6 separate regions of the Homo sapiens genome follow, and regions 2, 3, 4, 5 and 6 are each reported to be linked to region 1. The links are microRNA targets in miRTarBase. Many come from high-throughput screens and were not tested one by one. Region 1 holds a microRNA gene; each other region holds the end of a gene's coding sequence. Distances are from middle to middle.
What was found. The annotated mature microRNA hsa-miR-30c-5p reads UGUAAACAUCCUACACUCUCAGC and lies in region 1 at 3,423-3,445, shown strand. An mRNA with a match to its seed (bases 2 to 7 or 8) in the 3' UTR can be bound and repressed. Matches are read on the target gene's strand: a 7mer-m8 pairs with bases 2 to 8, a 7mer-A1 pairs with bases 2 to 7 and ends in A, and an 8mer does both.

Region 2: the mRNA of HERC4 is a reported target of hsa-miR-30c-5p. The part of its 3' UTR that is shown has no 7-base or 8-base seed match.
Region 3: the mRNA of CEP152 is a reported target of hsa-miR-30c-5p. The part of its 3' UTR that is shown has no 7-base or 8-base seed match.
Region 4: miRTarBase lists NSMCE3 as a target of hsa-miR-30c-5p. Seed matches in the 3' UTR shown: 7mer-m8 at 2,070-2,076.
Region 5: the mRNA of TOMM5 is a reported target of hsa-miR-30c-5p. Seed matches in the 3' UTR shown: 7mer-m8 at 646-652.
Region 6: miRTarBase lists SIKE1 as a target of hsa-miR-30c-5p. Seed matches in the 3' UTR shown: 8mer at 1,890-1,897.

Annotation. Positions count from the first base shown.
Region 1 is chr1:40,753,878-40,758,969 of GRCh38, forward strand. It overlaps MIR30C1 (microRNA 30c-1), which reads left to right and starts at 3,407; the gene lies at 3,407-3,495. It overlaps NFYC (nuclear transcription factor Y subunit gamma), which reads left to right. Exons shown (of 10, transcript NM_014223.5): 6 at 4,244-4,417. It overlaps MIR30E (microRNA 30e), which reads left to right and starts at 478; the gene lies at 478-569.
Region 2 is chr10:67,918,711-67,923,710 of GRCh38, reverse strand. HERC4 (HECT and RLD domain containing E3 ubiquitin protein ligase 4) reads left to right here. Exons shown (of 25, transcript NM_015601.4): 25 at 572-1,806. The coding sequence ends at 780. Among named protein-coding and RNA genes, the nearest start is that of SIRT1, 37 kb to the right of the region's middle.
Region 3 is chr15:48,733,586-48,738,677 of GRCh38, forward strand. It overlaps CEP152 (centrosomal protein 152), which reads right to left. Exons shown (of 27, transcript NM_001194998.2): 27 at 4,353-5,092. The coding sequence ends at 4,664. Among named protein-coding and RNA genes, the nearest start is that of CEP152, 75 kb to the right of the region's middle.
Region 4 is chr15:29,264,253-29,269,344 of GRCh38, forward strand. It overlaps NSMCE3 (NSE3 component of SMC5/6 complex), which reads right to left. Exons shown (of 1, transcript NM_138704.4): 1 at 737-5,092. The coding sequence ends at 4,539. All of the region lies in intron 2 of ENTREP2 (endosomal transmembrane epsin interactor 2), which reads right to left. Among named protein-coding and RNA genes, the nearest start is that of NSMCE3, 3.0 kb to the right of the region's middle. RefSeq lists an enhancer at 4,865-5,092.
Region 5 is chr9:37,584,111-37,589,202 of GRCh38, reverse strand. It overlaps TOMM5 (translocase of outer mitochondrial membrane 5), which reads left to right. Exons shown (of 2, transcript NM_001001790.3): 2 at 271-790. The coding sequence ends at 305. Among named protein-coding and RNA genes, the nearest start is that of TOMM5, 5.9 kb to the left of the region's middle.
Region 6 is chr1:114,770,128-114,775,219 of GRCh38, reverse strand. It overlaps SIKE1 (suppressor of IKBKE 1), which reads left to right. Exons shown (of 5, transcript NM_025073.3): 5 at 848-5,092. The coding sequence ends at 949. Among named protein-coding and RNA genes, the nearest start is that of SIKE1, 8.0 kb to the left of the region's middle.

The DNA.
Region 1 (5,092 bases):
AGAATATGAACGTCTGCCTTCCCGTCTCTTCTGCCTGCCCCTCTCCAAAGGTCACACTAGTTGTTTTTTCAGCACCTTGGGTGCATATAGCTCTTAATTGTGATTGTAATAGACCTCTGTCCTTTAGAGCTCATTGTTTTAAGCATGCAGATTGCATGATTCACTAGGTGCCACTTGGGAAATTGTGGCAGAATCTCACAGGAGCAAAGCTGTGCCTTGTTCTGCTTGCTTTGTTATATAAAACTTTATTTTTAATGAATTATTTCATAGTATATTATCCTTAGAAGCAGTCATTCAGTGACAGCCATTCTCCCCATCCCAGCCTGTATTAATAACCAGTCAGAGAAAGTCTAGGAGAAGTGGGCATCCTAATGAACATTTGTAATTCTGACCCTGCATGAGGGCCTTTGGATTAGCAAGCCCTCTGTCACCTCCTTACTAGAGTAGGGTGTGCCTCACTGCGTCTCCGTTCTTTCTGGGCAGTCTTTGCTACTGTAAACATCCTTGACTGGAAGCTGTAAGGTGTTCAGAGGAGCTTTCAGTCGGATGTTTACAGCGGCAGGCTGCCACGGTCGTCCCCAGCTACGCACCGGCTTTGAAACATTGCAGGTTTGTGCCCACAGGCTCAATTCCTCCTCTTGGGGGTCCTTCCCTCCTCTCTCAGAAGTCACAACAAGAACTCAGGCCATTTATCTTCCTTCAGAACAAAGAGTATCATACACCTGCTTTCCTTGTTGAAATTGTTTTCTCCTTTTGTCTATCAGAAGCCCCCTTTAAAACAAGATTGTGAGCTCTGTGATGAAATCAGGCCTTGCTCACTCTCATTGTGCTAACTCCTTGTTTTCTGTGGGCTGCCTGCTGAATACACTGGCTGGAGAGAAGGGTCACATCCTGTCAGTTCCTCCAAATTCCTCAGTGCTTCTGGGTCTCTCGGGGTGTCATACAGCTCCTTATTCCATCTTAGCCAGACTCAAAATGCTATGATCCATCTGATTTTAAAGTGTGTCTAGCTGAAACAGCTTCTTGTTGCTTGGATTTAGTTCTTTGTAGGTGTTCGAGGCATTGATTGGCATCGTATTCGGGACAGCTGCTGCCTGGCCTTTGAAAGGTTGAGATTGCTGAAAGCTGGCCTGAAATTCTAAGATAGCATTTTTAATCCTCTGTAGACATGAAGTTTTCCCAGGCTTCAAATTGGCTGGCACCTCCTAAAGTCCTTTAAAACGCCTACTCTCCAAAACCCACCCTTTCTGAAGGAGGCAGCAGTTCACTCTTGCTACTAAAGCGAATGTACTTTTTTCCAGTCAGGGCTGGTTGCACAACACTGTAGAGATGGCCCTAGGATGTGATGCTGCTCTTCTCTGGCACTGTTCGTCAGTCTCAGCTTCTGGAAAGATTCCAAGAGCAAGCCCTGTAGTTGGGGAGGCCACTGCTAAAGTTGAGCAAGTGCCCCATTCTGGATTGATCCAGTCATTAAAGCATTGTTCTGCCACTTGGGGCAACCTCCCACTGCTGGGAAAAGGAACTAGTCAGAAATACTGAATTGTGAGTCCAAGGCCCTGACTTCTCAAAGATACTTGAGAGTTTCGCTTGTTCTTCAGAGAAGCAAGTAAAGATTATTTGAAGGTAGGAGGTAGTTGAGGCCTGACTTCTGCCCCACTAAAGCTATTGAGTTGAAAGTTCCTGCCCATTGAAATGTCATTATCTTTTCACCCATTTCTTTAAACCAAGCATAATCATTTCCTTGCTGGCTTGACCTCCATTGGCAGAATGAGTCTTCATAATGCAGAAGAGCCTTAGATATGCCTTCTTCCATTCCAGTGATTTGAGAACAGTTGTGCCTTGTCCTAACAACACAAACCTAGGTGCCTCCACTTGATTCTCAGTGTCCTAGATACTGTCTAGTTCATAAACAGTTTAAGAGGATGTAGTAAGCAGCATAGGAGGAGCTCTTGTCCTGCTCTCACAGCTTTTGGCAAGAGATATTTTGGGTTCTGGAAGGGGTTTTTAAAGGGTTTGCTTTTTGTCTGACAAAAAGATCATATTCAATACTAGATCAGCTGTAGTTGGGGATAACTGGAGACTAAACAATCACAGGTCACGGCTAGAAAATGCAGGTGTCTCCCTGCTGCCTAGCTTCCTACACAGCTGGTTCTGAGGCTCTCATTCCTGTATACCCTCTCATTACCCAAGAGCTTTTCCAAGTTAGGTCTGGATTTCAGTGATTTGTGCTTTTTGTAAAATAATAAGGGAGATCTCAGTGGAACACAAGTACCTTGAACCTACTTCAATAGCTTTGCAAAGAGCAGTTGGCTTCTGTTTCTTGGCTGCAAAAGGTATCAGTATTTTAGCTTTGCCACAGCCAATACCTAGTTTCCAGGCTGACATTTATTTATAATGATGATAAGTTGGGGTTGAAATTGTTGTGGAAATTGAGACCTAGATGAAAATAAAAGGGAATCTCCTTTTCCTTCTGCCTTAGCATAATCATATTGAGGGTTAAAACTATTTGTGTCTGAAGCACAGACTATATCAACCTAAAAAGTCAGTTCATATATTAACTTAGAAACCCAGAATGTTACAGGTATCTCCCTAAGCTGGGTAGATGGCTGTCAAGTAACCATGTCATGCAGAGACCCATGTTTCTCAGGGGTAGATACTGGCAGTCCTAGTTTTAGTATCCTAGCCCCCAGACATCAGGCAAACAAAGGATACTCAGCTCTGTTCCACAGGGGACACTAGCTGCTTCCTCACACTGTGGCCACAGAGTCTTAGAGGTACCAAAAGAGAGTTTAGAGACTACTTTTTTCTATTGGTAACAGCTGTTGGGTTTAAGAGAATTTGTCATATCAGCAAGTTGGATTCAGAGAACTACTTTCCTGCCTCTAACTGTCTGCCTGTCTAAATCCATTCATCATTCATCACGCACTTACTGAGTGCCTACCTGGGAACGCGGGGGATAGCAGAGAGCAAGAGAGAGCTAGGCTTTGCCCTCATGGTGCTTAACATTTTAGTAGAACAGACAGTTAATTTGACATGCAAGTGCAAAAATGTATACTGTGAGGACAGTACTTTGGAAGCACAGTTGAGGGCACCTAACATAGTGTGGGGATGGGGTCAATACCAGCTTTGTAAATGTTACTTTGGGGAGTTGGAGGCAATCCACAGGGTCTGTGTACATCTAAGAAGTGTCTTTTCCTCTTTTCTGGAACGTGGCAAACTTTGCCCTGAATAAGGACATGAGTAAATTTAGCTAATATTTTTACTCAGCCAGCCCAAGTGGTTCTGTGTTTTTATTGTTTTTGTTGTCCCAGGCAGGGGCACCATGTGTCACACAGGTCACTCCGGATCAGACGCCGTTCTGTGTCAGTGGTCAGGGGCTGATCAACCCTGGACCCTGTGGGCTATAACCATGCTGTAGTGTGTGTAAACATCCTACACTCTCAGCTGTGAGCTCAAGGTGGCTGGGAGAGGGTTGTTTACTCCTTCTGCCATGGAAAACATCAGCTGAAGAAGGAACAGTCTCCACTCCGCAGATCGGACAGAATGCGACCTCCCTAATCAGCCAAGGCAGTACCCCAGCGGAGAGCTGTCCATCAGGCCCCCTGGGTTGCGCTTCTGTGGCTAAGTACAACCAGAACCAGATGTGACACTGGATAGACATGCCCTCAGTGACCACAGAGCTTTCAACAAGCTGTGAAAAGCTGGGTACTTGCCTACCAGTGCTCTCGATCCTGAAATTTCAGCTCAGGAAAAGCCCTGTTTCCCATTAACCTGTTCTGTCCCCCTTGAAGTGGTGGGGCTAAAACGAGAAGAGTGCTGCCTATTTGGGAGATTGGGACCAGGCCTGAGAGGCATGATGTTTGGGTAGCATCTTCCCAACACTTGCAATTAGCACTGTTCTCAGATCACAGGCCTTGACAGCATTTACTGACAAGCACTGCTGGTGTGTGGTTTTTAGTTACGGTACTTATTTGCCCGTTTGCAACTTATCATGCAATGGGTGATTATTTCGTACTTCAGAAATTGGCTGTATGTTTTGTGAAGCCTATAGGATCTGTTATTTTTAGTTTGATTTAGCATAACTGGTCTCTTTGAATTCCACTTTCCTTTGGCTTCAAATGTGGAGAGCTCAGCATTCAGCAGGCAACTGCACATAGCCTGTTTGGGGGAAGAGTGGAAATTCACTGTGGCGGCTGCTGAGTTGGTTCTTTTCCTCTTACCTGCCTCTCTTTCCACCCAACAGGAGGAGGTGCGCCAGTCTGTAACTCCTGCCGAGCCAGTCCAGTACTATTTCACGCTGGCTCAGCAACCCACCGCTGTCCAAGTCCAGGGCCAGCAGCAAGGCCAGCAGACCACCAGCTCCACGACCACCATCCAGCCTGGGCAGATCATCATCGCACAGCCTCAGCAGGGCCAGGTCTGTGAGCTGCTGAGGATGCCCATCCAGCAAGACAGTGCCCCTTAGGTTTTTGGATGGGCAGAGCTTGATGAGGGCAGAGAGGCAGCCAGATCATTATAGAGCACTGGATTTAAAGTCTGGAAACTGGAACTTTTCCCCAGATTCAGCTACTGGGGTGAGATGTTACCCTAATCTCTCTGGACCCTGTTTTTCTCAAAGGTCAAATGAGGAAAGTGTACTAGACAGTATGTTCTCCAGGATCCCTATTAGCTCAGAAATTTTAGAAGGGAAAAAAAAATGTCTGAAATGCCTTATGAAGAGTAGAGGTGCTAAAGTGAACTCCATGCCTGCTGTCTGTGTGTCTGTGTGAGAAGTGGAATTTGTGCCCTTAAAGGGAGAGATTAGGTATCATTGCCAAGTTGCATACTCCTTCTCCCCGTCATTTCTCTGTCCCATATTTGTGTTAAGTGACCTTCTCTTTTTACGATAGTAATCAGAGGACTCTTTCTCTCCCCAGTAGTAGTGTTAAGAGCAGTAGCATTCATGTTTGTTGGGGGTCATGTGAGGCTGCAGAGAACTCTGTACTATGAGCTCTGAATCCAAATTCTCTGTCAATCATTATTTATTCATCAAACACTGAGCATCCTCTGAGGGTAAAGTTCTGTGCTATGTATTGGGGATACAAGCATGAAT
Region 2 (5,000 bases), not on the chromosome of region 1:
GCTTGGTGACTGTGCTCCCAGCTACTCCAGAAGCTGAGGTAGAGAGGATTGCTTGAGCCCAGGAGGTCGAGGCTGCTGTGACTGTGACCGCACACTGCACTCCAGCCTGGGCAACTGAGCAAGACTCGTCTCAAAAAAAAAAGAATGATTTGAATTTTGGCTGCCCATTATAAATTTCTGATTTAAAAAAAATAACAGAAACGAAGCAAATAGAAAAAGAAATCATAATCAAAACTGCATTTTGTATTTGGTTTGTCAACTAGTTCTGAATGGCTTTTCCAAAAAAGGGCTCTCAAAATGTTTTGGCAATGGCAAAATACTCACTTATCAAACATTTATTAAGCACTTCCTTTGTGCCAGTATTAAGATTATACTTTTAAAGAAAAAATATTGTGTGGATGAGCAATTAGAATGTGTCTCAAAAAACTTGTCTTCCACAAATTAGGAAGTAAGATAACACGTTAGAGCAGATGTTAAAGTGAAGCTCTGCTGTAGCGACTGTACCAAATATTACTTGCTACTGTATCTTTTTGTTTTGAAGTGGTTGACTGAATGATTTCTTTCTTGGCAGTATTTTTGACAGGTAGTGATCGCATTCCTATTCTTGGTATGAAGAGTCTGAAACTAGTCATCCAGTCCACAGGAGGTGGTGAGGAGTATCTCCCAGTTTCCCATACTTGTTTTAATCTTCTGGATCTTCCAAAATATACAGAAAAAGAAACTCTACGCTCTAAACTGATCCAAGCTATTGATCACAATGAAGGCTTCAGTTTAATATAACTTTGGAGTTATAACTATTCAGTTTAGTGCAAAAGCATTAAACTATTTGTGTTTTTCTTGTGGTGATGAATTCAGCAAGGTGACAGAGGTACTATTATAATTCTTACTTGCAGAATGTTCAATCTACGAGTGTTCATGGAAGCCAAAAAATATTAAAGGAAAATGAACAAACTGTTAATATTATTGTACAGAACCATGGATTTTTTTTGACCATCTTCTAATAAACATAGCAAGTATTATGAATACATTAAAGTTTTACTAACATGAATTTTAAGAGTTTGCATATTTCAGAAATGATCTGGTGTGAGTGCATGGAAATATTGCTTAATTTTTCTTCAATCATTGAGTGAAAAACCTTTAACTTTGGCCTGCAATAGTCATTTGATTATTTTTTCATTTTGTAAATAATGTTAAGTTTTGTAATAAAATAGTTATGTTCTGATACCAGTACAGTTTCTATGGTTGTAATTGAACTTGAACAGACTTTTAAAGGTTAAAAATTATGATTTAAATCTTACTCTGAGACTCTATAAAAAGAAAAAAAAGGTAGCATGGTGGAAACACTATCTTTTCTTTTTTGCTAGAATAAGTGTCTTTGTGCAAACCTAAATCACAGATAGGGAATATACTACATAACCTGCAGTTCTTTTCTTTGTGAATCCTGACACACTGATAGATGGGGGATTGTCGATCAGAGAACTTATTAATATTTAGTACTGGAAGAACTCTGTCTCCACAGTTGCCAGTAATAAAAAGAAACATTGGCTACTATGAGCACCAATCACTGGGTTATAGCTTTCAAAATTATTGATGCTGCAGTGCTTTAGAGCTATTTCCTTGAATTTAAGAAACAAATCTTAACAGTTTTATGGTGCTGATGCTTAGTTGTCTCATGCCATTAAATTGTAAAAGTGAGTTGATGCAATACATGTGACTTTCTGCTATAATGCAAATATTTATTTTTTAAATTTATTTTAAAATGCCGTGAAAACTGTTTAATAAAGATTTATTGTTTTAATATTTAAACTTTCAGTGGTTCTCATATAAGAGTCAAAATTTTTCAAAAAGAGGGATGGTTCAGGGAAGGTCTCTTAAATTTCGGATGACTTGTTTCTATTCCTACATGAATTTATAGAGGTCCACAGTCTCTTAACCTGCAATTCTAAAATTTAAAAAAACTGAAAAGAATATTGTCATCTCTCACTTTGCAGAAAAACCTGATCTGAATTGTTGAAGCTATTTATGGTATTCACTAAATAAGACTATGACCGCTATTGGGTGCTTTAAAAAATTCTTCAGAATTCACAATTCCAAAATGCAAATAAGCCCAAGGGGTTGGATAAGGGATTGTGGACTTGTACTTTTCAGTAGATTAACTTAAAAAACTATTGGCGAACCATAGAACTCTTCTATAGATAGAAGCACTAAAACAATATTCTCACCTAAGGTACTTTGTCTCAAAGTAGTAGCATTCTTCCCCATGAGAGTGTTTCCACATACCTGATATTATACCATTTTCCCTGTTCATCCACTTCTTGAGGTAGTAATTATTCAAATCAAAAGCATGTCAGATGCTCTTTCTCAATAGTAGTAACCTTTGTATATTATGAAGCTGATTTGTGAAATAGCAGGCACTTTGGATTAATAGTTCCATGAACAAATATTTTAACAAGAGAATAGCATCTGGGAGCACACTGTACAAAGTTTAATTTGGGGACTTTTCCTCCCTGTTACTCCAGAACTGTGATACAATGTATTAACAGCAAGGAGATTCATGGTAGAAAGTTAAAATACCATTGAAGATTTCTGAAATTGCCACTTACTTTTAAAAAACAAGAAGAAGTCTCGAGCTTTGTAGATCAGAGCAGCAAGGCTGCAGATCATTTGCTAAATTGTAGGGACTATGATTATTGAGTTGGCTAAATACTGAAGTATTTGGCCTCCACACATCTATTTGTAAGGTACAAATACATAGTGTGTGTGTAGCTCTCCTGTCTTAGTAGTCATTCAAGCTATTAGCCATTGTTCAGGATGATTAATAAGACAGCAGAACCAAGACACTCCTTTCAATTAAAAGGAAATAAAACCAGAATGCAGGCTGGGCGTGGTGGCTTACACCTATAATCCCAGCACTTGGAAGGCTGAGGTGGGCAGATGGCTTGAGTCTAGGAGTTCGAGACCAGCCTGGCCAACATATTGAAACCCTCTCTCTCTCTACTAAAAATACAAAAAATTAGCCGTGCATGGTGGCAGATGCCTGTACTCCCAGCTACTCGGGAGGCTGAGGCAGGAGAATCACTTGAACCTGGGAGGCGGACGTTGCAGTGAGCTCAGATGGCGCTACTGCACTCCAGCCTGGGCGACAGAGCAAGACTTGTCTCAAAAAAATAAAAATAAATAAAACAATAAAACCAGAATGTAGGTGTAAAAACTGAGAGACCTAAATTAGATTCCCACGGTTAGCCTTCTCATAGGATCTGTTCCTAAGGACCATTCATTGGGGTCAATTTTTACTATCAGGTTGCTCTTCCTTACAGCTTTTTACTACATTTAGTAAAGCTGTGAATCAAGGTGTAATATGGCATAGAGCAGTCTTCCCCTGAAGAGTGCATGGTAAGCCTGCTAAAACAAGAGCAAAATATTCCTGTCATCAGTCTCTTCCTCCACTCCCCAACCTCTTTTGCACTTTGACCATCCAGAATGCCTTATGGTAGTTTTGTCCTCCTTTGCTGAAGAATTCACTCTATTTTGATAACTCCCTACTCTGCTGTATTTGCTTATGAACCCCAAATTACCTAATTTATGAAGCATTTCTAGGTAAAATTTGGGAATTGAGGCTAATGTAAGTTAACCTCCTTTTTTAAGCCAGCCCTAAGGAGTGTATGTTAAAAGTCATCAAAACAGAGCTCCTCAATTCTTTTCCAGCTAAGGGTGTTTCTCAAATCTGGCTATACTTTTGAATCGCCTGGGGGCGTTTTTAATACTCTGCACAAACCCCACCTTACACCAATTAAATCTGTATTTCTAGGAGGTCTCAGGCTATTCTTGCTTTTTAAAAGTTTTCAAGTGGTTTTTAATAGTCTCATTTGACAGTCACTTCAAAAGGTGGGGAGGTCATTAGACCATTTTTCTGTACTTTCTACTAGTATCCTAGTTTGAGCTGAAGGCCTAGAATGGCTTTAGATCTTTGGGGGAGAGGTTTTGGTGTACATACATATACATACTCCCCCACCCCTTTCTAGATTACAGGTCAGAAGTTGTGTTTCAAATAAAGCTTAGTTGGGGATTATGTAAAACACCATTGATTGAAGGTCCACCGTCATTTTATGTACCACTACAAAAAAAAACGCTAATTAAACCATGTGACATTAATTAGGGTATTACAATCAGTGAAATACAGTACATGCTGCATTAGCCAGTGGTTCAGCAATAACGTTATGCATAGGGCTTGAGTTAAATTAGGTTTTGCCAAATACCTTTTGACCACTTAAATTGACTATGTACCTTTAAAAGTATCAACTACCTGACTTCTTCAATTTGTGCATATATAGAATGTTCCTTAATTTTGTAATATTTTGAGGATATCATCTTACAGGTAATTTCTCTAGTGCTAACAATATACAGGACAGGTCTACCTAGAAAGTTTGCTGGGGAGGGAGGCAGAACTGGGAACAGGAAATTGCTAAAGCTTTATTCATTACATATACTTTTTTGTTCTTTGAGACGGAGTCTTGCTCTGTCACCAGGCTGGAGTGCAGTGGCGCGATCTTGGCTCACTGCAGCCTCCACCTCCTGGGTTGAAGCGATTCTCCAGCCTCAGCCTCCCAAATAGCTGGGACTACAGGTGCCGCCACCACACCCGACTAATTTTTGTATTTTTAGTAAAAACGGGGTTTCGCCATGTTGGCCAGGCTGGTCTTGAACTCCTGACCTCAGGTGGTCCGCCCGTGTAGGCCTCCCAGAGTGCTGGGATTACAGGCGTGAGCCACTGCACCCGACCAAGTTACACATACATTTTAAGGGGTACACTGCTGGCCTCTTCAGTAATACTTTCGCCCTCAAAACCTTTAATGGCTTAAGTAGGTTCTCAGGTCAGCCTCAGAAAGTTGATACCAAATGTGGTCTGCAGTCTTCAGACTTGAAAGACCTAGCATCCCAGAACAGATTTTCAGTTAACCCAGCCTTTGCATCAGATGGATTTTCACTATCCACCACTTCCT
Region 3 (5,092 bases), not on the chromosome of region 1:
GACAGAAAAAAATAATTGAAGAAATAGTGGCCAAAAAACTGCCTAAATTGTATTAAAAGGATAAATCTAGAAATCCTAGAAGCTCAACAGACTCTAAGTAGGATAAACACAAATTCAGACCTAGACACACCATGCTCAGACTGTTGAAAGCCAAAGAGAAAATCTTAAAAACAGTATAAGAAAAACAATTCATCATATATAAAGAACAACAGGATTAACAGTTGACTTTTCATCATGAATAGTGGTGACCATAAGGCAGTGGAATGACATATTCAAAATGCTGGAGGAAAAAAGTCAACCGAGAACTCTAAATATATCACATACTGTCCTTCATATATAAATTTGAAATATATTCCAAAATCCACAAAGACTGAGAGAATTTGTTGCTGGCATACTTGCCTTACTTGGAATACTAAAGGAAGTAGAATATAGATGAAAGGAAATGACAACAGACCTGGCAACTAGAATCCATGGGAACAAAGAAAGAGCAGCAGAAATGATTACTACGTCAGTAAATATAAAGAACTATAAATATACATTTCTTCTATTAAATTCTTTAGAAGACATATTGCTTTATTGTATAAAGCAATAATTATAACACTGTAATATATACATATATACATATACATATATATATATATACACACATACATATATAAGACATAATAGCACAAAGGAGGGGCAAGGAAATGAAGCTAAACTGGGGCAAAGTTGCTATATTGTACCAGAAGTTAGTCAATATTCATGTGAAGTAGGCCGTAGTAAGTTAAGATACCTATGATAAGTAGAGACACCACTTAGAAAAATAGCTAAAAAAAAAAAGGTTAAAAAAACTAAAATGGTACCCTCATAAATATCTGTTTAATGCAGAAGAAGGCAATAAAAGAGCAATTCAATAACGAAAGATACACAGTAACCAAATAGCAAAATGGAAAATGCAAACCTAACAAAATTGTAGTAAATTTTAATGCACCTAAAAACTCCAATCAAAGCTTCTCTGATAAAAAAAAAAAAAGCAACATCCAGCACTATACTGTCTTCCAGAGACTCACTTCAAATTAAAAGATACAAATAGGTTAAAAGGAAAAAAACAGAAAGACATGCCATGCAAACAGTAATCATAAGAGAGCTGCAGTGGCTGTAGTAATTATAGACACAATGGACTTTTAAAACAAGAAATATAGTAGATACAAAGAGGGATATTTTAAAATAATAAAGGGCCAATTCATCTGAAAGGCATAACAGATATAAAGGTATATATACCTAACAACAAAGCTTCAAAATACATGAAGCAAGAACTGACAGAATTGAAAGAAAAAAGTTTAACAATTACAGCCAGAGATTACAATATCTCACTCTTAATAACCAGTTGAACAAATAGGAATAAAATCAGCAAGGCTATAGCAGACTTGAACAATGCTATCAACCAACTTGAACTGACATTTTTGAATACTCCATCCAAAAAGAGCAGAATATACATTCTTTTCAGGTGCATGTGAAACATTCCAGGATAGGCCATATGCCAGGCCATAAAACAAGTCTCAAGAAATTTAAAAGGATGGAAATCATTCAAAGTATATTATCTGAAAACAAGTAAATTAAAAATAAATAAGAAAGAAACTTTGAAAATCTGCAATTCTTAGAAATGAAGTAACATACTTCTAAATAATCTGTGGGTCAAAAGAAAAATCGCAAGGGAAGTTTGAAAATATTTTGAACTAAATGAAAACAACAATACAACATATCAAAACATATGAGGTGCAACTTAAACAGTGCTTAGAGAGAAATTCAGAGCTTTATACATCTATATCAATAGAGAACAGTTTCATATCAATAATCTAAACTTTCACTTTAAGAATCGATGAAGGGCCAGGCGTGGTGGCTCATGCCTGTAATCCCAGCACTTTGGGAGGCGGAGGTGGGCGGATCACTTGAGGTCAGGAGTTCAAGAACAGCCTTGCCAATATGGTGAAACGATGTCTCTACTAAAAATACAAAAATTAGCTGGGCATGGCGGCACACGCCTGTAGTCCCAGCTACTCGGGAGGCTGAGGCAGGAGAATTGCTTGAACCCGGGAGACGGAGGTTGCAATGAGCCAAGATCGCGCCACTTCACTCCAGCCTGGCGACAGAGCAAGTCTCCATCTCAAAAATAAATAAATTTTAAAAAAAAGAACAAAGAACAGTTAATTAGACATAAAGCAAACAGAAGGAAGAGGGAAAAATCAATGAAATTGGCAATAGAAAAACAAGAGAAAAGAGAAGAACCCAAAAGTTCTTTGGGGGAAAACAAATCAACTAATCTGATAAACCTTTAGATAGACTAAGAAAAAAATGAGATGACACAGAATACCAAAATCAGGAATGAAAGGGGGACATCATTATCAAGCCTACTGAAATGAAAGGATTATGAGAATACTATGGCTAACTGTGTCAACAAATTAGACAATTTAGATAAAATAGCCAAATTCCTCAAAAACCAAAAACTACCAAAACTGACTAAAGAAAAAATGGAAATTATGAATAGCTCTATAACAAGAAAATACATTACTTAAAATCCACACTTCTGCACCACCCCCACCACCAGCCCAGGCTAGATGCCTTCACCTAGTAAACTCCATCCAATATATAAAGAAGAAGTAATACCAATGCTACACCAATTCTTTCAGAAAACACAGGCAAGGAAACACTTTCCAACTCACCCTATGGGACTGGTATTACCCTTTTACCAAAGCAAGACAGAGAGCATGGGAAAACAAGAGACCAATATCTCTCAAGAACATACACATGAAAATCTTTAACAAAGTATAAAATAAAATAAAAATCCAGCAACATTAAAAAAAGGGCTAAATATCATGACAAAGTGAGATTTATGTGATCATGATATCTACAGGGCTCCTGCCTCCCTTTTGTTCTGCCATGACCTTTCAAACCAATGTACACCACTAGTCATAGTTTGGCTGTGTAGTCCCTTCATTTGCACACTAATAAGTGGATACCTTCATATTTATCATAATAGAATTAGGTTACCTTGTCATACACCCTATACCACACCCTATCTCCAACCAATTGGATATAGGATGTATGACATAAAGTAACTTAATCCTATTGAGATTATGAGTATCAAAAAAGATTAAGGATACTCTAAAAGGAGCAGAAAGCAAGAGAACTTCCAATTTCAACCTTAATGTTGAGAGTTTAAATAACTGACATGGATTTTGAACCAAGTGGAAAAGGTAGGTGAGCAACGAGCCTAGATTCTAAGTTTACTAAAAACAAGGGCTTAAAACGATCAAGCACCAACCAGATCCATAGGGAGCATAAACTTGGCTGTTTTAGAGTTTTTTTCTAGAGTGAGAGATGACAGCCTAACTGTTGGAGAAGGAGCATTGTATCTTCAGGAATACAAGTGAGACTTTGACAAGATGGTTTGTTCCTTACTATAGCTGTATGTGAATTCAAGCACTGAAGTCCAGGACCAATTTTTAGACTTATTTATCCCTGGTCAAGAGTTAAGGTGACAGAGCTTTCCAAGCCCAAAAAGTTTTCCTTCTCGGTTCTTGCTTTTAGAGATGGTTATCAGGAGGAGGAGGATGCATCTTGCCGTCTCCCCATCACCACCTAAGTTATCTGGCTCTGGGTGGAAAAATACACTAGATTAACCCCCAAATACAATCCATAATATAGTAGGTGTGGGAGATGTGAGAGAAAGCTATAGTTAACTGTTTTCGGAAGCACTTGCATACAGCTAAATGTTCATACCCATCGCTAGGGATCTGAAAAAGAATTCACCTAAAAACAATGATATTTAGGTAGTCATTCATTTCTGCATGTATTCTTCAGTTTAGAATTATAACCTTTAACCTAGAGCATTAATTAGCCAGTTCTGCACTATAAATGAATGTAAAAATCTAATCGTTTTACATTTTTTGCTACATGACAAAACTTATCTCAATTTTTCAAAAGGTCGTATTTCAGATGAAAAAACAAATGTGAAGCCATAAAAGAGACAAAGTTTTTGGATGTCACAGATGATCTGAAATAATGCAAGTAAGAACTAAAAAAATTCAGACTAATATTTAAATAATAAAACCAGGACATAGCTATGTATTTTGTAGTAAACCCTGGAAAACCTCTAACTGAAAAAAAGATCAAAATTTTGAGTAGATATTGCTAGGAAAAGTCTATGTAGATTAAGTTCATAGCCTCATTAAACATGACTAATTTCAAAAACTAAATCTGACTAACACATACAAATAATCAAAATTTATGTTTTTTTCTGGGTGAATTTCAAACATGATGCCAATATGACATTTCTGTATTCTGAACCACAAAATAATTCATAACAATTCTACAGACCATATGCAAGTTTATTTAAATAAGTTAACACTGCAGAGTGAGTCAATTTATAAGTATAAAAATAGATGGTTTAGAAACCAAAAATAAGCACCACACAAAAGCAGATTATACATACACCATCAGGCCTTTGGAATATTAAGGCAACATAAATATCTCAAGCAATTTTAGAAGAATGCTTTACTTATATAACAGATGTTATTAAAACATCTCAAAAGAGGCAGGGCTCACAATTTTTTTCAGTATGAGGTCTTCCCTTCCATTTTTGTTAATATATTAATGATTCTTCTTAAATACTGTACCATAATTAGTCTAGATTAACAAATGGGCTATCAAAGCCACTATCTTGTTGGCTAGATAGCGGAACAATTAATTTTCTTGAAGGCTGCTGACACACTGAAGATGGTAATGTACTGCTCAGTTTTTTGAAATCTGACTTTAATCTATCAGCCTTATGACGAGATGGGTGTCCACAATTCACACTGATCTTTCCTGGCTCCAAATACGTGGTTTCTTCTGACAGGTATGGAGTTTGATAACGCTGACATTTCATTGTTTGACAAATCATATTACTTTCCTCTGTATCTGAAAGATAACCGGATGGTGAAAACTGTTTGGATTTAACAGATTCACTTGGTATTTCCAAAGTTCCTTGTGGCCTACCATGTACAAATGATGCTTCACGACTGTCAAAGGATAAGGTTGCACTGCTGGAAGGCCAGCCCAAGCAGTCACT
Region 4 (5,092 bases), not on the chromosome of region 1:
GGGGCTCCCACTGGCCAAATCAGGGACAATTTGAGTATTGAAATATGTAATGATAATAAAAGATTAGATAATAAGTTAATGATAATAAGAGACCCATGGGTCTATACAAAGTCTCAAAGTGTCTCCACACAAGTTATTTGTTTACCTTAAAGGAGAAAACTCTGCAGTGGAGGCACATGACAGAAATCCACCTTAACCAAAGTGATCAAGGTTTCAAAATAACAGGACAAATTGAAATTTTGTGCCACCTGATAGGATCCAAAAATAACACAGCATTGCTTCTGTGATATTCTTCCCAAAGATGCATAATTCAAATCCAATCATGAAGAAACAGCAGACAAACCCCAGCTGAAGGATGTTCTACAGAAAACAGGCCCGTATTCTTCAAGTGAAGGTCATAATAGTCAAGGAAAGACTTAGGAACTACTGGCAATAGGAAGGAGACTAAAGAAACATAACTAAATAGTTCAGGGAACAAATTATTTTGCACTGGGCTTGCAACTTTTCTGTAAATTTGAGGTTATCTCTAAGTAAATTAGCATAACCTCAAAAATAATGATAATATAGGAAAATTAAAGACTAACCCCCCCTTATGTCAAAAGATGCAAAATTATACATTTTGAGCTATATGTATTTAAAAATTTTATCAACAACTGTTTGTCTCCAAAATGCAAGAATGTTTAGATATCAGAAAACTGTATGTTATTACACCAAATTATATGCCCCAAAAAACAAATTTACAGAGTAAATAAGACATTTTAATCATATTAGCAGGTAAATAAAGAGCATATATACATCCAAAGTCATTCATAGTTTTTTTTCTGAACATCTCTAAGCAAGCTAGGACTGAAGGGGTAACTAAATAGCCCAATAAAAGGTATTTATAGGGGAAAAAAACTCTTAACAGCAAACATCACACTCTATGGCAAAACTTAAAATTATTTCCTTTAAAATCAAGAATAAGGAATCAGAAACATCCTTAGAGCCTGCTGTAACTGCTTCTTTTCAATAATATATTGCATTTTCAGCCAATGCAAAAAAGACTAAAATAAAAGGCTTTAAGAATTGAAAAAGAAGACAGGCATATGATGCTAAAGAATTATAGGCTGGGCGAGGTGGCTCATGCCTGTAATCCTAGCACTTTAGGAGGCCGAGGCGGGCAGATTACCTAAAGTCAGGAGTTTGAGACCACCCTGGCCAACATGGCAAAACCCCGTCTCTACTAAAAGTACAAAAATTAGCCGGACGTGGTGGCGGGCACCTGTAATCCCAGCTACTCAGGAGGCTGAGGCAGGAGAATCGCTTGAATCCAGGAGGCAGAGATTGCACTGAGCCAAGATTGTGCCAATGCACTCCAGCCTGGGCGACAAGAGCAAGACTCCGTCTCAAAAAGAAAAAAAGAATTACAGTATGGTATTTGCAAATGGATAGCAAATAAACCAATTCAGTCCTAGCCATAAATTTATCTATACATGGGACATTGCTACAAAATACTGAGTGTCATAAATCAGTGTGGAAAGTATAAATGATGAAAAACTGGTGCTAGGCTATCCATATAGGAAAAATACAAAAACTATTTCCATACCTCACATCATACACAAAAGCAGATTAAAAGCATAAAATGTGAAGATCAAAACTTTGAACACTTAGGGAAAAAAGGCAGAAAACATATTTACAATTTTAGGATTAGGGGAATTTTTTAAAGCACTATACACAAATGTAGCTCTTATAAACACTAATGATCGTAACACATTTAGGTCAAATGATCTGTATGACCAAAAGAAGTGAAAATGTGGGAGAAGGTATTTGCACTAGATAGATAGAGCAGACCATGGATTAACATGTAGAACATATAAAGATGTCTTACAAATCAATAGAAATAGGTCTAAGACATGAAATCTGACACTCAAAAAGGAGTGAGAGCAAAAGATAGGCAGATACTTAACATTACTAGTAAGCAACAGGTATAAGTTAATACCGTAATAAATTATCATTTCACACTGTACCAGAATGGCTGAAAAGATACTGAAAAGGCCAAGTGTTCACAGGGGGTGAAGGTGGAGGGATTGGTAAACAAAAACAAAACAAAACTGTATAAAATGTTGATGGGAGTGTAACTTGACACAAGCTCAAGAGCAGCTTGGCAATAGTCCTTGATTGCTCCATTTGTTTCTGGCTGGAGAAACTCACACATGTGCCTAAAGAAGTACTGTACAATGCCTGCAAATCTCAAAGAACTGGAAAGACCTTAAATGTCCAGACATTAAGGAATGGATAGTTATTTTTCCCCCATAAAAGAACAATTAAAATGAGTGAATCAGGTCTACATATATCCACATGGCTGAATCTCAAATACATAATGGTGAGTGAGTACAGCAAGTTGCATAAGGACACACGTAACACCGCTTATATAAATCATGAAAGCCCACAAAATAAAACTCTATATTGGTTATGTATATATACATGTATAGTAAAATTATAAAGTCATACAACAGCCCGATAGCCACAGACTTTTGTTACCTCTGGGGAGGGTGAGAAGGAAAAGATATAAGGCCTTGATGTGGCCTCTGATGTTTCATATTTTAAAATTTGAAACAAGATTATCGATGGTAAATTGCTAACACCTCTGAGAAAAGCGGGGGGAATTTTGCCTCAGATATAACTGGTGGTGACTGCTGGGTAATAATTTTTATTATACAGGTGAGAATGCGAGTATCAGAGGGCATGAGGAGGAGAAAGCTGAGTCAGGGAGGTAAGGGGACCAGGAGGCAGGAAGGAGTTTATACACTGAAATAAAATGCAGATCAAGAAGAAATGCCTGTAAGGGCCAAACATATTCCACTGATGAAACAAATGCAAATCCCAATTCAACAGAATGAAATAAAACCCAGTAACCTATCACATTCCTCCATACTCACTATAGACTCTTTTAAATGACATTCCGTCCAGTGTTGATGAAGTTCACTTTTTTCCCCGAGTTAAAAATATTTGCCTTATTTCAAGGTTAATTTGCAGCACCTCCCCCTAAAACAATTAACTTATTTGCCCACTGAATAAAACGTGTTGAATCTCTGCATTAAAAACAGCATCTGCTACACGTAATGGAGGAACACAATGGGACTATGAACTCTTCTAGTTCATTTAGTGCATAAAACTATTATATAGCTATTATTTTTCTCATTTTACAGATAAATTGAGATTCAGAGAGCTTAAAACCTACCCCCACAACCACCATGCTGACAAGTTAGCATGAGCCGTAATTCAAATTCAGTTTGCCAGACAGCCCCAAGACCCATACCCTTTTCCCTATACCTAACTCCCTAGGAGGTAGATCTTATGTCCTGCTCTTATGTTCTATGTGGGGCACACTCACCATACACGTTATATTTCCCCATACAATAGAGTGAGACTAGAGGACTATCTTTTGAACCAGGAATTGCTCTCCTAGGAATGATTTGGAAAAAAAGATAAAGAAAAGTTATATTTAAAAAGTGGCAGCTCCAGACCAAGGAGAATAAAAAATAAAAACATTAAAGAATAACAAATAAAATTCTCCACATCACGGACTAAAACCATTTTACAGGTCAAGAAACATCTGCATACAAACTAAGGAACCTATGTAAATTCATATACTAGTTATGGTGGGGCCAGGATCTCAACCCAGACAGTCCGATTCCCAAACAGGCATGGTTAATGGTTACGCTATTGTTTTATAAGCCTTTTTGAGATCCACAGTGAGAAATATATTTCACCTCATGATCCTGATTTTGTTTCACACAAAAGTGAAACAACTTCTACAAAACAGCATTGACCTTAATATGTAGCAAAAACTTTAAGATGTTGATTTCCAGTCATGAAATTCTCTCATGACCCACGATTTAAAAAACACACAATGCTTAAGTGCTTCAAAAATACAGTATTTATTGTAATAACTACAGTAGCAAGAAGAAAAAAACGAAGTGGAACTACGTGTTTAGCAGCAGAGCTGAATAATTATGAATATAAACAATTACTATTGGGAGAAAATACATTACACTCATTGCTTGGAACCATGAATAATACTTATATATGTACGAAATATAGAAAAATAAAATAGGTTAACATAATAAGGATATAGGCAATTATTTTTTTTAATTTTATAAAAACTTTTATTTTTCCTTACAAACTGGGGTAGTTAGGAGACCTGATAATAGCTTTTTTATTTTCTTGGCACCAAAGCAACTTACTTATGTGTTCCTTCTTGCATTATCTGTTCCAGATCATAGTCAAGTTTTCCAATTCGTTTTACTAAGCTAGCAAAATTTTTTATACCAAAAAGAGTAAAATCAAAACAAATGCTCCTTTGTTTATAGATGAAAATCTGGAGCAAAATAACACAACATTAAAAAAACAAAACTTTGCAAACACATCCTAAAGCTACACACATTGAAGCGTTTACAGCAATATGCTCCCTGGGTTCGTTCTCCCTTCCCCCAATCCTCTAAACTGTGCCTTTGGGTCTCAGACCCTTGTCCCGGGGGTCCCTCTGAATCCACCTTTCAAGAGGATGGAGCTGGGCCACTAGGCTGAGGTCTGGCCCTGTTCTCCTCATCTGCCAAAGCCTCACAGTACTGCGCTGGCCAGTCCTTGGGGTCTTGATTATGGACCTTGGCCACAAACTTAAGAACTTTCATCTTGCTGGTTTCCAGGTTGGTTCGCGGGCCCCACTGGAATTCGTAGTCGACGGGGTCGGTGTGGGGTATCCGCCGGTATTCCAGGTAACGCTGTCGCACAAAGTCCTCAGTAATGAGTTTCTTTGGATCTCCGAAAATTAAATGCTTCTTGGTGGGGTAGACCCCTAAGCGCCGCAGAAAGTCCCAGGCTTCAGTTTCCTTGATGGTGTTGCCCTTCATAAAGATGAGCCCTAAGACGATCATCAGGAGGCCCGTAGTGGGCGTGCCTTGGTCACCCCTCATCTCGGCATCCTCCTCCACAGGCTCCAGGGTGTTGATGAGGATGTAAGTGTTGCTCTTGGGTTCAAGTTCCACCAGCTTATACCCGAAGACGTACTGGAGGCGCTCGGCGGCCCGTTTGAAGAGGTCGGGGAAGATGT
Region 5 (5,092 bases), not on the chromosome of region 1:
TTGGATTTATACTTTATGGCCCTAAGGGGCAAACTATCTGGAGAAAAGGTTTTATGTAGTATAAGAATGAAATTTACAATAATAGCTGAATGACAGTGGAATGGGCTGCTTTGGAAGGCAACTAGTCCCTTTTGCTGGGCTGTACAGGCACATGCTTGACCATCACTTGGAGTTATTTTCAAAAACATGTTGAATAAACCTGATAATTCTATAATGTAGCCTATGGGCTAATAGATTTGAAAACTAATTTTAGATTTGTTTTTCTTTCAGCTCCATTTATCTTAAAGAAATTGGACAGCATATGAAGACAGGACATCACATATGAATGCACGATATGAAGAGCCTGGTTACAGTTTCGACTCCTCTCTGCAAGTGAATAGGCCCAGAAAGGTGTAAGAGACTCTTTGAATGGACATAAAATTCTGCTTGTTAAGAACAAGTTTGGCTCTGGTAACTGACCTTCAAAGCTAAAATATAAAACTATTTGGGAAGTATGAAACGATGTCTCGTGATCTGGTGTACCCTTATCCCTGTGACGTTTGGCCTCTGACAATACTGGTATAATTGTAAATAATGTCAAACTCCGTTTTCTAGCAAGTATTAAGGGAGCTGTGTCTGAAATGGCACTGTCTTGTCAGTCATTTCTGTTTACCTTTTTCTTCTGCCCAGAGTGTATTTGTGAAGAGTCTCTTATATTATGTTTTGTGGAAATCAGCACACAACCACAATGACATTTAAGCACAGGATCATTATTAGTCTATGTTTTTAATAAACATATCAATTAAGAAAAGTTGGGTTTCTATTTTTCTTATCCTACTTTTTGCTGCAAACCAACAATCACTAGTGAGACTTGTATTATATTGAGATTATTGCAAGCTTCAGTAAGTTCATCTTGTTTTGGACTAGAGAATTTGCCAATCCTGATGAAGTGTCATTGTGTTTTATTGCCAGGCAGTCTTAATGAAAGGTAGCATTACTGCTTGATGCTGAGTATATGAAATATTAATACTACCAAAGGAAAAAGTACTATATTTTTAAGCCAAATAGTTCTCCAAGTTTGTTGAGTGGAGGGGGGATAGTCCTTAACCTTCTCCCCAGGAGCAACTACATACACCTCTTTTTAGCTGATTTTATTGGTATTTACCTTTTGGTCTCTAAATAATGTGACGGTCGTGATTGGGATTTAGGTCTCTTTCCTGTCCTTAGCGCCATCACTCACACGTATCTTGTCATCTCTTCCTTCCAAAGGATAACGTAGTGTGATCTTGAGTAGATTAGTATCATTAGGATTCTGAGTATAGTACCTGGTTTTCTTTTGCTGTGTATCTTTTTGTTTTTTTCTAGGCTTGGTTTTTCTATGGAATTTCCACTAAATCAACTAAACTTTTTGCCATTTATCTAAATCATTCACAGCAATCAGCTTTATTAGGTACTCTGTTTCATTTTCCTGAGTAAGCGTTTCCTGGAGTCTTCTGACCCGCCCCTGACTGGACTGATAGCCTTCTATGCCTGATGTGTGTGGCTATATTCTGGGAACTCCCTTCTCTATGCCTGATATGTGACTGTATTCTGGGAACTCCCTTCACTATTGTCCGGGAATTCCTTTTCTTCTCTCTTATTATATCTCGTTTTCTGTTACCTAGTGTCTTGGTTTACTCCCTTGTTTGATGGAGCCTGTTTTCTCTGGCAGTGTCCTCCTGAGAAAGGTGGCATAGGAGGTGAATGACCTTGCTGGTCTAAAAATGTCTTTTTTTTTTTTTTTTTTTTTTTTTTTAACACGGAGTCTTGCTCTGTCAACTAGGCTAGAGTGCAGTGGCATGATCTTGGCTCACTGCAACCTCCACCTCCCAGTTCAAGCGATTTTCCTGCCTTAGCCTCCCAAGTAGCTGGGATTACAGGCACGTGCCACCACGCCTGGCTAATTTTTGTATTTTTAGTAGAGACAGGGTTTTGCCATGTTGGCCAGGCTGGTCTCGAACTCCTGACCTCAGGTAATCTGCCCACCTCAGCCTCCCAAAGTGCTGGGATTATAGGCATGAGCCACTGTGCCTGGCCTTAAAAATGTCTTTATTCTATAGTTTGATGAATATAGGGTTCTAGATTAGCAATCATTTTCCTTCAGAATTTTAAAGCAAAGCCTCTAGCTTTCAGTGTTGCTGCTGAGAAATCTGAAATCATTCTGATTCCTGATTTTTTTGTGGGACTAAGTATTTCTTCCTGAGAAACAAGGATCTTTGTTCCTAGTATGCTTATATTCCATGATGACATCATTTAGTGTGTGTTTATTTTAATACACTGTGGTGGGCACTTGGTGAACCTATTTAAACTTGAAACTTGTATCTTTATTTCTCAAATTTTGTAGGTTTTAAAATAATTTTATTATTTTTTATGGGTATGTAAGTGTATATATTTATGGGGTGCATGAGATATTTTGATACAGGCATACAGTACCTAATAATCACATCAGGATAACGGGATTATCTGTCACCTCATTTATAATTTATTTATGTTACAAACATTCCAGTTATACTTTTAGTTATTTTTAGATGTACAGTAAATTATTATTGACTGTAATCACCCATTATGCTATCAAATACTAGAACTTATTCATTACATCTAACTATATTTTTGTACCCATTAGCCATCCCTGCATTCCTTCCCTAACCTTTCCTAGCCTCTGGTAACCATCATTCTACTCTGTCTCCATGAGTTCAGTCGTATTAATTTGTAGCATCCACCAATGAATGCTTATAGGTTTTTATTGATTTCCTCCCCTTCTTTTTCCTTCTGCTCTCTTTTTAGAACAATAGTACTTTTAATGTTTTCTTTTTCCTTTATATTCTATTTTATCTGTAATTGCTTTTCTCTTTTTTTGTTTCATGTTAGATGCTTTCCTTGGTTGTCTGCTCACACTTAAAAATTGGGAACTAACATGGATTAAAGGCCTGGAGTGGAGCTTGTTGATGTTGAACTTTGCCAAAGGGCCATCTATTGGGCCATTTTTGTTGAGAAAACTTTTTGCGTCTGTATCTTTAGTTATTTCCCATTGAGCTGGTCATTGCTCAGAGAACAAAGACTCTTCCAATCTCCCAAGTGCTGAATGAGGCCCTGCCAACGTTCTGGGATTCAAAGGAATAGGGCTGTGGTGAGGCTCAGGACAGACAGGTGTGTGTGTGTGTGTTTCAATATCCAGTATGTATTTGCTCACTGCGTCTCTGTTTTGAGTATAGTACCTCTGCCCAAACTGCCTGGCATCCCATAATCTAGAGACCTTCTATTTTACCCTTTTCAGAAAATAAACTTTTTATTTTTTGGAGACAGAGTTTTGCTCCAGGCTGGAGTGCAGTGGACGATCTTGGCTCGCTGCAACCTCTGCCTCCCTGACTCAAACGGTTCTTGTGCCTTAGCCACCTGAGTAGCTGGGATTACAGGCGCACACCACCATGCCTGTCTAATTTTTGTAGTTTTAGTAGAGATGATGTTTCATCATGTTGGCCAGGCTGGTCTCGAACTGCTGGCCTCAGGTGATCCGCCCATCTCAGCTTCCCAAAGTGCTGAGATTACAGGTGTGAGCCACTGCACCTGGCCTAAAAAAAAAAACTATCATTTTGAGAGGGTACTGTGTAATGGAGGCTGTTTTGCTGCATAGAGTTGCAGAGAGCATCTGATTACTTAAACCTTGCACCAATTCTTATTTTAATGTCTACCCTTCTACCCCTTATTGCTAGAGGCACCTGAAGCCACTAGTTTCTGAGCCTTTTAGGGATTCCATGATATAAATTAGGTTGTGAGTTTTTGTTGTTGTTTGGGGGTTCTTGTGGGTTTTTTTCTTTTTCTACCGCTGGCTCAGAATTCAGTTTTTCAGAGTCTACTACATTATTTACTGTTGATCTACCTATTTTCCAGCTTCTAACGTTTTATTCCTGTTTCCTCTTTTCTTCCATCCTTTTAGGTTTATATCTTAAAACAAAAACCTTTACCGTCATTTAATGGGATTTTTGGGAGGGAGTGGAGGTAGGTATACGTGCTTCATCTACCATCTTAACCTGGAAAGCATGTATTTTAATTCTGTGGTTTTGTATTTATTTCTTAAATTAAGAAGGTGTAGTGTATGGCACTGTGGTCATATGAATACTGGCTCTAAAGACAGGCAGACTTGATTTTGAATGTTGGCTCCAATACTTACGAGATGGGTGATTTTCAGCAAGTGAGCTCCGAATCTCATTTTCTTTAACTATAAAATTAGGATAATAGAAACATCTCTCTACTTCAAAGTGTCGTAAGGATTAAGTGAAAAAATGCAAGTAGAGCAGCTGGCACAATTGCTTGACATTTGGTAAATGTTATTAATGGCTAGTCTTTGGTATAAGGCATTTAGAAGTGATTTGTGCTGGCATTCACAGCATAGACAGATCTCATTCCTATTTCCAGATGCTCTGAGATAGCATACTCATCCTCTAATTGTGTACAAACTTCAAACTTACCAAACACTTAAGTTCATTATCTAAAAATAGCCTTAACCAATCAATAATAATGCCATTTTACAGGTGGAGAGGTTGAGACTGCAAGTTTCAGTGGCCAATGAGTAGCAGCTGGCCAAGGCCTAGGGGACTTTTTTTTTTTTTTTCATTTAAAAAAATTATTTCTAGTCAGTCTGTGCTTATCCAGGGGACTTTTAATGTTTATTTATTCCTTGTACCCCATCCTTACATGCTTTTCTTGGAGGAAAATAGTGTAATTGTTACCCTGGATTCTAGTGTATGTTCAGGCTGGAGTAAGAGAAAATGTGATGGTTCAGTTTTTGTGACCAGCTTTTTAACTTTCAGGCCATAAACGCCACAGAGGGGCTCAATACTTGGAATAAGCAGTTCTAAAATAGTACATTAAGAAACAGTTGGGGAGATATATACAGTTTGTTTGTTTGAATATGTAACATGAAATAAGAAAGAACCATAGCAAATTTGAGTTTGGTAAACTCTTGAAAGGGGTACGTTGAAAGAAATGGGGATAGTGAAAAATGTTTATTCTCCACAAACAGGTTACCAGCTTAGTAGGAATGCTGCTCCTAAGTTAAGGTAGTGTACTTCCTGCT
Region 6 (5,092 bases), 74 Mb from region 1:
TTTACCAGAGTTTTCTGCAGAGGATAAGGATGAAGAGCAGAAGCTACCCTCTCTAGAAATCAAAGGTAGTGACAGGTCCCAAGTAGGAATTAGGAGCTAGTGAAATGATAGCATGACCTTCTATTTATCCCCGATTTACCTCACTTACGGAAACAGCCCTAAGGAAATGTGGGGCAAATTCTACCTTAATACTTCAAGTAGAAAATACACGACCACCAGATTCAGACCCCAGCAATACCACATCCAAGTTGTCTGAATTTGGACAACTTTTAGGAATTTTGTGAGCCAGAGTATCCTCATCTGAAATATATGGATGTAGGCAATGATACCTACCCTACAGATTATTGTGAGATAACATATACAGGGCACCCAAGTAGTACCCAGCTACATGCTCAATAAGTAATTTCTTTCCCCCTTTCCTTCCATTTCTCTAGAACTGTAAGATATCCAGGAGAGGAGATTAATCAGAGTGAAACGATTATTAGGAATTTTTTAAATAAAAGAAATAATAGTAAAACTGTGGGAACCAAGAAGAATATAACAGTGAATTCCTTAAATGGAGAGGACCTTGTTTTTTGTTTCTCCTTTGTAATCCTAACACTTGGTATATAGAAATTACTCAGTAAATTACTACTACAAAAGAGTATCATTGCCTACATCCTACATGTAAATGTTTGTTAAATGAATAAAGTAGTATTTAAGGAAATTCTCAACTAGTGGATTTTTTGTTTCCATAAATTTTTTAAAATTAAAATAATGTTTTCTGCTCCTGGCTCAAAATAATGTGTTGTTGTAATGCAGTTGGACAGTAAAAATACCAGAAATAAACATGCCTTTTTTTTTCCAGCTTGAAAATAAGGAACTTCGAGAATTATTGTCCATCAGCAGTGAGTCTCTTCAAGCCAGAAAGGAAAACTCAATGGACACTGCTTCCCAAGCCATCAAATAACTGAACTCTGAATGATGGCTGGAGATTGTCTATCAAGGAAGGAAGTTACTGTCTTCCCATTCAAGTACTGTCCATTAAGTGTCTTGCCTCAGATTTGATTTAATCTTAATTAAAGGTATCAGGTGGCAATTTAGAATTCCAGTCAATATTGGCTGTCCACAGTTCTCAGATGTGTTAATGTGAATACTACATGCTGAATTTCACCATTCCTTTCTCAAAGAGACTACTTTTAATTTTCATTTCTGGGACCTTGATTTATATAAACTATGTTTTCAGTTCTTTGTTATTTTTCACATCTCTGAAACTTTGAGCATTTTTTATAAGCCAGCAATTTATTTTACATAGCATTGTAAAATACACTTCTAGGAAATTTTAGGAAAGATTTAACTGTTTAAATCTATTTGGCATAAACCTTGATTTTTTTTTTCCATTTGACAAAAATAATACAATTCCACAGAACTAGATCAGCAGATTCTCTGATTTGTAATGTCATTCACCTGTGACATTTTAAGTCTCTCTGGTGCTAAGAATTGGCACTTTATAGCCTGGTGCCTTTACTTTTAATTTGAGAGAACCTACTGCTAGTCCCAGGAAACACACTTGGAAATAAGTCAGCTATTTTTTTTGCCCAGTGATGCTATAGTTGTCATATTGTCCAAAGTTCATATTGTTCAAAGCTGAGGAGCTTGTCCTGTGTATGTGAATGCACACATGTGCACTTAGTTCAAATACTAAAAGTAGCTTTTATTAAATATAATCAGCCAAAAACACACACAAAATAAAAAAAACAAATATAAGTAGTCAGTTTTTCAATGTTATCCTACTAGTTCTACATTCTATTTTAATTTTTATACAATTTCCATTTTATAGTTAAGAACCATCACTTACTTGGATTGGATGTCTTTCATTCCTAGCACTAATAGTTGGCTTTCTTTTTTTTTGTTTACATAGAAGCAGGGTTTTTTTTTATCTTTTTTCTTTTTTTTTGTTTAAGCTATATAAAAAGGTGAGGAAGCAGTTTTGTTACCTAATGAAAATTATTACACTCATAATGCTGTGTAGGCAACATTGAGATTCAAATGCCCAGTGGTCAACTGGGTTCACTCATCAACTCATTCCCGTCCCAGTTTACTCACATTTCAAATTTATAAATTTCTTCATGTTATACTATTCTATTTAGATTTGCCCAGAATTAGTTGAAATAATGCTAAACCTGTCAATATTTTCCAGTAACATTAAGCACCATACTGCATGGGAGAGACACAGTACTAAAAAGAGTTGTTAGTGCTTTATGTGAGTGATATTTCTTTCGTAATGCTATAAAGAACTACAGTTAAAATAACAAAATATTTTAAAGATGTCCTAAAAGCATCTGATCCCAGTAATAACTAATGGATGTCATCTAGAGCAGTGGGTGTTAATGAATAGGTATATGTCATTTAAGAATTTTTCAAATTTCTGTTTGATATCCTGCATAGAATTTGACAAAAAAAACACTTCCAAGTGTGAGCATTTTTTATTTCATTTCCCAAGAGTAAGTAAGTAACTATTAGCCCAGCCATCTGCCTCGAAGTATACCTTAAGTGACCCCATAAATCCATTCAAGAGGCAGGTACTCTATACCATTTGGCAGCCACGGCCAAACCTACCATGGCCAGATTTCAGTGAAAATGATGAAGTAATCAAATCAAGGTATAATATGGTGTCCCTTTATGTGCTTTATGTTCCTTTAGAGCTGTTTATAAAGTTCTTTATATCTCAAGTGTTAGGATAAATCGACATACTAACTTTTCCCCCTGCAAAATTAAAAGCCTGAGGTACAAGTCTAAGAAGCTTTTAGTGCTCTACATAATATAAATTCTGGCTGGTGTTAATGCTATGAAGATAATATGTAGTTAGAAAATTGAGTCGGGGAGGAATGCTCTTCATTTTAAGTGGATTTTAAAGTTTCTCCTTGAGTGGATGAAGAACTTGCCTGGTTTGCAAAAATCTTAGTTCAAAATTATATTTTCTAACAAAAACTGCATTTTGAGAAGATAAGCTAATTTTACTCAGTAGTAAGTCAAATGAGGAAGTGCAGAGGGTTTTTTTACATATATATAGCAACCTTGTCAAGTGGTCCTCACAAGAGTCATAAATACTTTGTAATTAGCACAGTATATTCAGCAGTGTATAACTCTACAAATAGTACCTTATATTAGTGTAGTATTATATCAATATCTTATGTATAATTCTTATATTAATACCTTATGCATAATTGGATTCAAACATTGAAGGTCTATTTTAGTGTTCTTCAAAATGTGCTTCCCTGACCTACTGAAATAGAAACTTGGTGATGAAGTTCAAGAATTTGTATTCTAATCATCTCAAACAATTCCTAAAGACACTGATTTTAAAATATCTAGTCTAGGCCCCATTGTGTAATAGTTAGCACTCTAAAAGATGAAAAAGAAAATAGTCTATGTGCCAACCACTTCATTAGTACTTATGAATTTAAAAATGAAAAAGTCTGGTACAGGAGACAAGTATATATATAAAATTATAATGCAGTGTGATAAATCCATTATAGTATGTATAAGATACAGAAGAGGGACTTTAAACTTGAGAATTCAATAGAGATAATAAATGGGTAGGAGGGAAATAGAAAACTTTGGTGCCACAAAAGCAAAGTATGTATGGTATTGCCAATAATAGCTACCATCTATTGAGTGCTTTACTACCTGTCAGGTACTGTATTATATAAACTCCATTTTAACTGTACCTCATTTTGCAGATACTCAGGCACAAGGAGGTGGTTATTTGTCCAAACTGGAACCAAGATTCAAACCCAGACAGAGTCTTAAGCACATTTTTAATCACTAACTAACTTGAGATGCCTAAATGCCAAATACTGTTGGGAGTTCAAGTGGTTCTTGATTAGCAAAATCTATTTTTATTAGTGCAAAAGAAACACCACAGCTTATAAAGTATTATGAATTCAATAAATGGAGTCTTAACTAATGAGATATTATTTTCTAGAATGGTGTAGCTGAGAGTATGTGTGATTCAACTGAAAGGAATAATGTTTAATCAGTGACTCTTACTATATACAGGAAAAGGTGCAGTTCTGTCTTTCAAATCTGCCTCCTTACCATATTGGCTTACATCCCTCATGCTGTTTTCTTGTGTTTGCTAGAAAGTTGTTGCCAAGCCAAATGTCATGGCCATGTTGAAGGCAAGGAAGAAAAAATGGAAATGGCCTGTGCCAGCTATATATATCGCCTTTTATGAGGGAAAGCAAAGCTTTCTCAGAAATCCCAAATGGATTTTCCCTTGACTTAATTGCCTGACCAGTTAAATGGCCACTGGTACCTGCAAAGAAAGCAGGGTACATAGCTGTCCCAAATAAAATCAGTATTAGCAAGAAGAAAGAATATTGAGAAAGCAATTAACAGTGTCTGTGACTGTGACATGTCTGTGACTTTATATTGTCAAGTCCTTTCCCCTTGAATATAGTTTTGGAAGAATTAGCTGAAGGAGTGTGTTGACATTGAATGGCCAAGAGAATGGGCTGTAGCAGACATCTGTCATTTCTCTTTTGGCTGCCCAGTATCCTAACTCCTGTGTTTAAGGAATCCCTCACCTAATGAGGCAGAGCATTTCTTCCTCCTAAAGAATTTGAAAGTACCAGGTAATGTTTTCTCAGCCTCCTTTTGCAGCTAAGGAAGAAACATCTGCCTTCAATTTTAAAATTAGTGATACAAAGAAGGAGGGAACCATGCAGATTCCTTTGAAGATGGTGATTAACAACACTACTGCATTCATCTCCACAGAGGTACAGCAAAAGTGATTTAGTTAGCGATAACCTCTAATTCTATTTTTTTATTTTTATTTTTTGAGACAGTCTTGCTCTGTCAACCAGGCTGGAGTGCAGTAGCACTGTCTTAACTCACTGCAACCTCCACCTCCTGGGTTCAAGCGATTCTCCTGCCTCAGCCTCCCAAGTCGCTGGGATTACAAGTGCCCACCACCATGCACAGCTAATTTTTGTGTTTTTAGTAGATGGGGTTTCTCCATGTTGGCCAGGCTGGTCTCGAACTTATGACTTCAGGTGATCCGCCCGCCTTGGCCTCCCAAAGTGCTGGGATTATAGGCGTGAGCCAC